2 separate regions of the Homo sapiens genome follow, and region 2 is reported to be linked to region 1. Evidence: microRNA targets listed by miRTarBase, many of them from high-throughput screens and not tested one by one. Region 1 holds a microRNA gene; the other region holds the end of a gene's coding sequence.
Evidence for each region. The annotated mature microRNA hsa-miR-6733-3p reads UCAGUGUCUGGAUUUCCUAG and lies in region 1 at 2,035-2,054, opposite strand. An mRNA with a match to its seed (bases 2 to 7 or 8) in the 3' UTR can be bound and repressed. Matches are read on the target gene's strand: a 7mer-m8 pairs with bases 2 to 8, a 7mer-A1 pairs with bases 2 to 7 and ends in A, and an 8mer does both.

Region 1 (3,401 bases):
ATCAAAATCCACAGATGCTCAAGTCCTTTATATAAAAATGGTGCAGCATTTGCATATAACCTACACTCGCCTCCAGTATCCTTTAAAGTCAGAGGACCTCAACTCCCAGGCCACAGACCGCTACGAACCCACTATGAATCTGTGGCCTGTTAGGAACCAGGCCGCACAGCAGAAAGTGAGTGACAGGCAAGCAAGCATTACCACCTGAGCTCCACCTCCTGTCAGATTGGTGGTGGCGTTAAATTCTCATAGGAGTGCGAACTCTACTGTGAACTATGCATGGAACTATGCATGCAAAGGATCTAGGTTGCCTGCTCCTTATGAGAATCTAATGCCTGATGATCTGAGATGGAACGGTTTCATCCCAAAACTATCCCCTCCCCAAGTTCATGAAAAAATTGTCATCCACGAAACTAGTCTCTAGTGCCAGACCGCTTCTTTAAATAGTCTCTAGATTACTTATAATACCGAATACAATGCTATGCATCACCTCATTCTCATGGATTCAATGTAGTTCTCGGCACACGGAAAATTCAGTTTTCCTTTTGCAATATTTTCAAATTTTTTTCCCCAATATTTTTGATCCAAGGTTGGTTGAATCCACAGATGCTGAACCCATGGCTATGGAGGGCTGAATGTATGTTGGATTACATGCTGGCAATCCCTTCTTCCAAAGTTAAATGAGGTCCAAGTTCTACCCAACTCTAAATTGTACTATATCTGAACCATCTAAGAATCCCTCATTTTACAGAGGAGAAAACTGAGGCCCAGAGAAAAGTAATTGTCTACAAGTTCTAGCACTGACAGTGGCAAGGGCACAAGAATGCTGTCCTCTCTGCACACCATGTCATGACCATGCCAGCTAGGAAATGCACTGGGCCATCTTCACCTCGGGGACCACACTTCACACAGCACTGTTCCTCTCCTTAATTGCTGATTTTAGAAAAAATGTCATTTTTATATGCATCTAATTGGTGGTAACTGGCATGACTCTGAAGTAGCCAATCTATGGAAGAGGTAATAATTGTCCTCTGACAACTGGCTCCCCGTTATTGGGCTCATAGCTATCTTTCTAAGCCAGCTGAATATGCTTAAGTACAAAGTTTTGACTTTCCAGAGGAAAACTTCTATTTCTTACCTTCTGCATCTGCAGATCAGATTTGGCCATTTCCGCAAAATAATCAGTGGGTCGCTTCGTAGGGACTTTGAGCTGATGGAGGCGGGGTAAGACTGCAAGCACTGCGGCCTGGGCTTGGCGATAGCTGAGAATCGTAGGACAAAATGTGTAATGAGGTGAAGGAGGAGGCCTTACGTTCCTTTTCACCGCCAATCATGAGTTATCCAAGCTCAGAAGGACTCTCAAAATCTGACCTCCATTAGCAAGAACAAACAAACAAAAACTGTCTCACTGATTTAGTATCTAAAAGAAATGTAGCCGTATACTAGTTTTTAAAAAGGGGAGGGGTGTTGCTAAAAATAGTTTAAGAGAATGACTACTCTAAAGGTACCCATTAACACAAACGAATGTCGATTATGGATTCTTATGTAATTACTAAAGCAATTCCACACAAGAACATCCCATAAGCAATGTTTGTTTGTTTGTTTTCCTAATAACTGAAGCATGCACAAAAAGTTTTAACATGAATATTTCAAATTAGCCCATAAAGTGGATTTTGGATCGTGACCGTGGACCAAAGAGCTCTTCTCTCAAACAGGAAGAATCTCCTAGCTATTCTTAGTCAAAAGAAGCCGCTCTCTCTACTCCTAGGCTTATTCTGAGTGCAGACTTACTAATTTCCCCTCTTTCCCACTCTCCTGCACAAGGATCCTCAACTTCTCCAACATTTGAAAACAAACATACAAACTCATCTCTCGCTGGAAGTCGTCTTCTGGATCAACAGCTTTCTGGTCCTTGTTCTGAGGTGCTGGCGCCTCAGATCCACCGATCTCCGGTACCGGACCCAGTGTCACATCGAGCCTTTCAACCCATTCCAGATCCCGCTTGAATTCTGCCAAACATTGCTTCAGGCCATTCTAGGAAATCCAGACACTGAGCTCACAAGAAGGGAACTCTGAGTTTGTCTTTCCCAAGCACAGGCTGTTAGGCGAAGGGACAAAGTGCTAATCCCCAATACCCAGACAGGTAATTGACCCTCTTGGCGAGGCGCAGGGTGCATCTTTCCTGGGACAAGAATCGGTCTCCCAAGCCCAACAGCGCCTGAAGCGCATCCCATGTCCGAGTACCCCCGACCCTGTGCCCACGCTCACCACGTCGTTCACGGCCTTCTTCGGCCCCTCTAGCACGACATTGAGGCCTGGCTTCAGAAGCCCTCGGGAAAACGCATCCTGCAACTGCAGGACACAATCACGGTCACTCCCAGGGGTGTAAGGCCCCCTCTCCCACGCCCAGCCCCACGAGCTCGGCTGACACCTACCTCTCTGTCTGTGACAAGGGATTCATCGGATTCCGACTCCGAATCCGAGAGCGGGGGAGTGTCCATCTCGCCGCACGCACGTCCCACACCTACAGGAAGAAACGGGGTATCCCGAGACCCAAGCGGCTAGCAGAGGGCGGCCCTGGCCGCTGCTGCCTGCCTTCAGCCCCCTACTCCCACGCCGTGGCTCCACGTGCCACCGAATCGCTCCAGCGCCAGCAACTCACAGCTACTGCTCAACTTTTGATTGGGACTTCCGCTTCCGGCGGCAAACCATACTTCCGGTTTGTCGTTGCTATAGGAACCGCTACGGCGTTTGAAAGTGTCCGGGTTGCTTAGGATCCCTACAGGTAGCGCCTCTGGATACATGCGTGGTCTGCTGACCCAGAGAGAAACGAAAGGTGGGAGGGGGTACCTGGGGGTCGCCAGAAGGAGCTGGTAGCAGTGAGGGTACAAAGGAAAAGGCAGAAAAAGGAGCCGCGGGGGTGGGGTGGCGCGGAGGAGGACCCCGGGGGAGGGGAAAGGGGAGGGACAAGGGGAGGGGAAAGGGGAGGGACAAGGGGAGGAGAAAGGGGAGAGACAAGGGGAGGAGCAAAGGGCGGGGAGGGCGAGTCCGGGCCGGGGGCGGGGTCGGAGCGGGGCGGTGCTCTCCACTCTGAAGCGCTGCCTTGGTCTTCAGCAGAACTGTTTGGCGGGAGATCATGTCAGCCGTGGTAGCTCAGACGCTGCATGTTTTTGGTCTTCGATCCCACGTGGCCAACAATATCTTCTACTTCGATGAACAGATCATTATATTTCCTTCAGGAAATCACTGTGTGAAGTACAATGTGGATCAGAAATGGCAAAAATTCATTCCAGGTAAAACTTTTTCCATCCTGACATATACAGGAATGGTATGTGCCACATATAACCCCATAATCCCAGCATGATGATTGGAAAGAAAGATTTTGGCCAATTTGAATATAT
Region 2 (3,401 bases), not on the chromosome of region 1:
GCAGGCTGGAGAGTGAGGCCCCCTATTTGTTGAGTCCAGAGGCTGGGCCTGCAGGTGGGCCCTCCTCTGCCCCTGGCTCCCATGTAGAGAACCCATTTAGTGAACCTGCAGACTCCCACTTCGTCAGGCCTATGCAGGAGGTGATGGGCCTGCCGTGTGTGCAGACTTCAGGCTACCAAGGAGGAGAACAGTTTGGGATGGACTTTTCCAGGTCTGGTTTGGGCCTCCACTCCTCCTTCTCCAGGGTAATGATAGGTTCCCCAAGGGGAGGAGCCAGTAACTTTCCTTACTACCGCCGCATAGCTCCCAAAATGCCAGTTGTAACTTCCGTCAGGAGCTCACAGATCCCAGAAAACTCTACCAGTTCTCAGCTAATGATGAATGGAGCTACGTCCTCATTTGAAAATGGCCATCCTTCCCAGCCTGGCCCTCCACAGTTGACCAGGGCATCTGCAGATGTTCTGTCAAAGTGCAAGAAGGCCTTATCAGAGCACAATGTTTTGGTTGTAGAGGGAGCTCGCAAGTATGCCTGCAAAATCTGCTGCAAAACTTTTCTGACTTTGACAGATTGCAAGAAGCACATCCGTGTTCACACAGGTGAAAAGCCTTACGCCTGCCTGAAGTGTGGCAAGAGGTTTAGTCAGTCCAGCCACCTGTATAAGCACTCAAAGACTACCTGCCTGCGCTGGCAGAGCAGCAATCTTCCCAGCACTTTGCTCTAGCTGTTTGTCCTTACAAGACAACGCTGAGGCCAGTTGTCAGACTGAATTTCTTTTGGTAAGCAGTTAATGCCTTTGGGTTCGAGGCTTCCAGCTGCCCAGTGGCTCTTAAACAGTTTAGCAACTAATAACCGGAGAACTAACATGTAGTATTTGTGCTGCTGCATTTCTGAGTGAAGTGCACGTCTTGGGAAAGGGATGCAATCCCTGAAACCAGGTGCTTCCTTGGGGTTGAGTAATGCAGTCAGAAAGTAGTTTGTAATTGATATTAAAAGTGGCACATTTAAAAATTTAAAAATTGAAGTGCAAAAAAAATTTTTTAGCAATTTTTGTAAAACTGTGTAGCATTTAAATTTCCTATACCTTCTGATGGGAGTATTATATCCCTGTATAGTGATGCAAAATGCACTTATGTGTAACCAGTGGTGATTTGGTGCCTGTCTTAAAGGAAGGCCTTTGAGGACACACCTGTCTGCCACAAATGCTTTAAAGTGTATCATGAGCTAGTCCTAGGCCTCAAAGTACTGTATTTTTTATTTTTACCTGATTTGCAGTCATAAACACTGCACTTTGGTGCTGACACTGGGTCCAGAGTGAGCATTCTCTTGGACTATTAGATGTATATACTTTTGAATACATCACTGTTGGATAGATGTTTTAACAGTTTTTTCTGGTTTAAAAACCAAATTGTAAATGGAGTGTGTACTTGTAGAGAGTGACAAGGTATTGTTTCCCTATGTGCTGTTTGAGCAGTATTTTAACCAACTTGTATTACAGATGTTACAGTTCCATGTTAGGAAGTCAGAAAAGACTTGTGTTTGTCTTTGTTCTGCTGATGTGGAGTCATGTTTTGTGGGGTCTTCCATGGCACATTTACCTGTTGCTCCGTCCAGATGTTGAGGGCCAGTCTAGGCTGACACATCCTACCCGAGGACAAGCCTGTTCTCCATTTCTTCACTCTCCCCTCCCCATATAGCAACTCTCCCAGGTTTAGATTACCGTTTTCGACGACAGATTAACCAAAAATGCCCCACACAGGTTTTATTACTGTTATATACTATACTTTTAACAGTACAGACCCTAAATTTTATTATTTGTTGCTCCCCCAATCTGATACCAAATGTTTAAAGTTGTTTGAAATCCAAACATGGTAGTGTTCATGGGTAAATATTTTCTAGGCTATGTAAGAGTTAGCAGCCCATAGCATAGAAGTAATCAAGTAGCATCTGAGACTGTTGGAGGCACTAGGGCCTCTCTGGGCCCTACAGCCTCACTTCCCCAGCCTCACCTTGCTGTCCTCTGACACTGCCATCAGGGCTGTTAGTGGCACCTGTATGAGGCCAAGTGTGCGTCCAGGGGAACAGCACAGGTTAATGCGTCTCCCTAGAACTCATGAAGTCAGTTTAATTCATGCATGAACATGAGTTCATTTTATGTTTTATATAGCTTTCTTAGACATACCAAACCATCATTCATAAATCAGATAAATTATTCAGTTTTTGTGTTTAGAAAGCTAAGTATGTGTAGCTGGAAACAAAAATGAGCGTGTTTTCTCTCCTGTTAATCTAGAGTGTGCAGTTACACATGTGTGGATAATTTCATGTTCCAGGGGCGCTTGGCATCTCCCATGGACTGATTCCCAGGAAGAAAAGCCCAAAGGGAAACCCACGATTCCTTTCGAGTAGATGTGGGAAAGAGCCCATTGGAGGATATGAGGTCCTGTGAAATTCAGTTGTGTGTGTGGCTCCTTGTTAGCAGTCATGTTGACATGGTGTTAGGAGGCTCCCCATCCACCCTTTACATGATGTAGGGACCAGTGTCTTGTGAGATTAACCTTGGGACACAGTGGGTTAGCCTGGAGAAAATGAGAGGCCCTGCCTGGACCCAGGGAGAGGAGCCAGTGACACAGGCAGAGCGGTGCAGCCCTCCTTCCCTTCCATTTGGAGGAGGTGGTGCCAGGAGCCTGCCCGCTTACCTCTGCTGAAGCATAAGTGGACTTTGCTTTTGGGGCTTATCTCTGATACATGCTGGAGCCCTGCCTCTCCACTGCTAGATGGAACCTGGAATCTCTCATCTACCTCTTAGTCTGTCAGTTTCTACGTGTGAGAAGCAAGCTTGTGGGCCAGTGTCCTTGTACATGCTGTAGCACTTAAAAAATAATTCCAGGGTTCCCTGGAAAACCAGTCCCAGGGTTCCTATGATCTGTAGTTTCTACCTGGATTATAACTGGTTTTGGGTACCTGAATTTTGATTGGTTAGCCTTAATTATAGTCTGGCGTGATCATGTAGAATCTTTTCTGGTGAACAGATCATAAAGTTCTATCAAGGAGTTCTATCAAGGCATCCATGTCAGTGGTGCTATGCTGGTTACAACTTGAGATTTTTGAAATAAAAAATTTGTCATATTCATGCCTCTAAATATGTGTTCTTTTTCTTTACGTTATTAAGGTTGAAACCAAAGAGGGTAATATCTCTTTGCCAGCCCTTCTTTGACTAGTACTTTGTTTTAAACCAAACCTTCTATTAACAGTTAATTGGTCGTTCCTCTCAAATCATTCCCTTCTGCCTTCCCCCGCCTTTTCTGTCTTTGAGCTACGCACATGCATGAGATTTTGCTTTTCAGTCTACCCAGTTGCTCTCTGAGGGCCTGCGTAATCTTGTGCTGCTCCCTGGACCTGCCTC

Region 2: the mRNA of ZBTB5 is a reported target of hsa-miR-6733-3p. Seed matches in the 3' UTR shown: 7mer-m8 at 1,298-1,304 and 7mer-m8 at 2,021-2,027.

The regions. Positions count from the first base shown.
Region 1 is chr1:43,169,618-43,173,018 of GRCh38, forward strand. MIR6733 (microRNA 6733) reads right to left here and starts at 2,095; the gene lies at 2,035-2,095. EBNA1BP2 (EBNA1 binding protein 2) reads right to left here and starts at 2,673. Exons shown (of 9, transcript NM_006824.3): 1 at 2,436-2,673; 2 at 2,269-2,352; 3 at 1,862-2,034; 4 at 1,139-1,262. The coding sequence starts at 2,501. It overlaps CFAP57 (cilia and flagella associated protein 57), which reads left to right and starts at 2,713. Exons shown (of 23, transcript NM_001378189.1): 1 at 2,713-2,836; 2 at 3,118-3,293. The coding sequence starts at 3,137. RefSeq lists enhancers at 1,748-2,384, 2,210-2,439, 2,385-3,020, 2,570-2,699, 2,780-2,829 and a silencer at 2,940-3,139.
Region 2 is chr9:37,437,839-37,441,239 of GRCh38, reverse strand. It overlaps ZBTB5 (zinc finger and BTB domain containing 5), which reads left to right. Exons shown (of 2, transcript NM_014872.3): 2 at 1-3,138. The coding sequence ends at 722. It also overlaps a transcript of GRHPR not described here. Among named protein-coding and RNA genes, the nearest start is that of GRHPR, 17 kb to the right of the region's middle.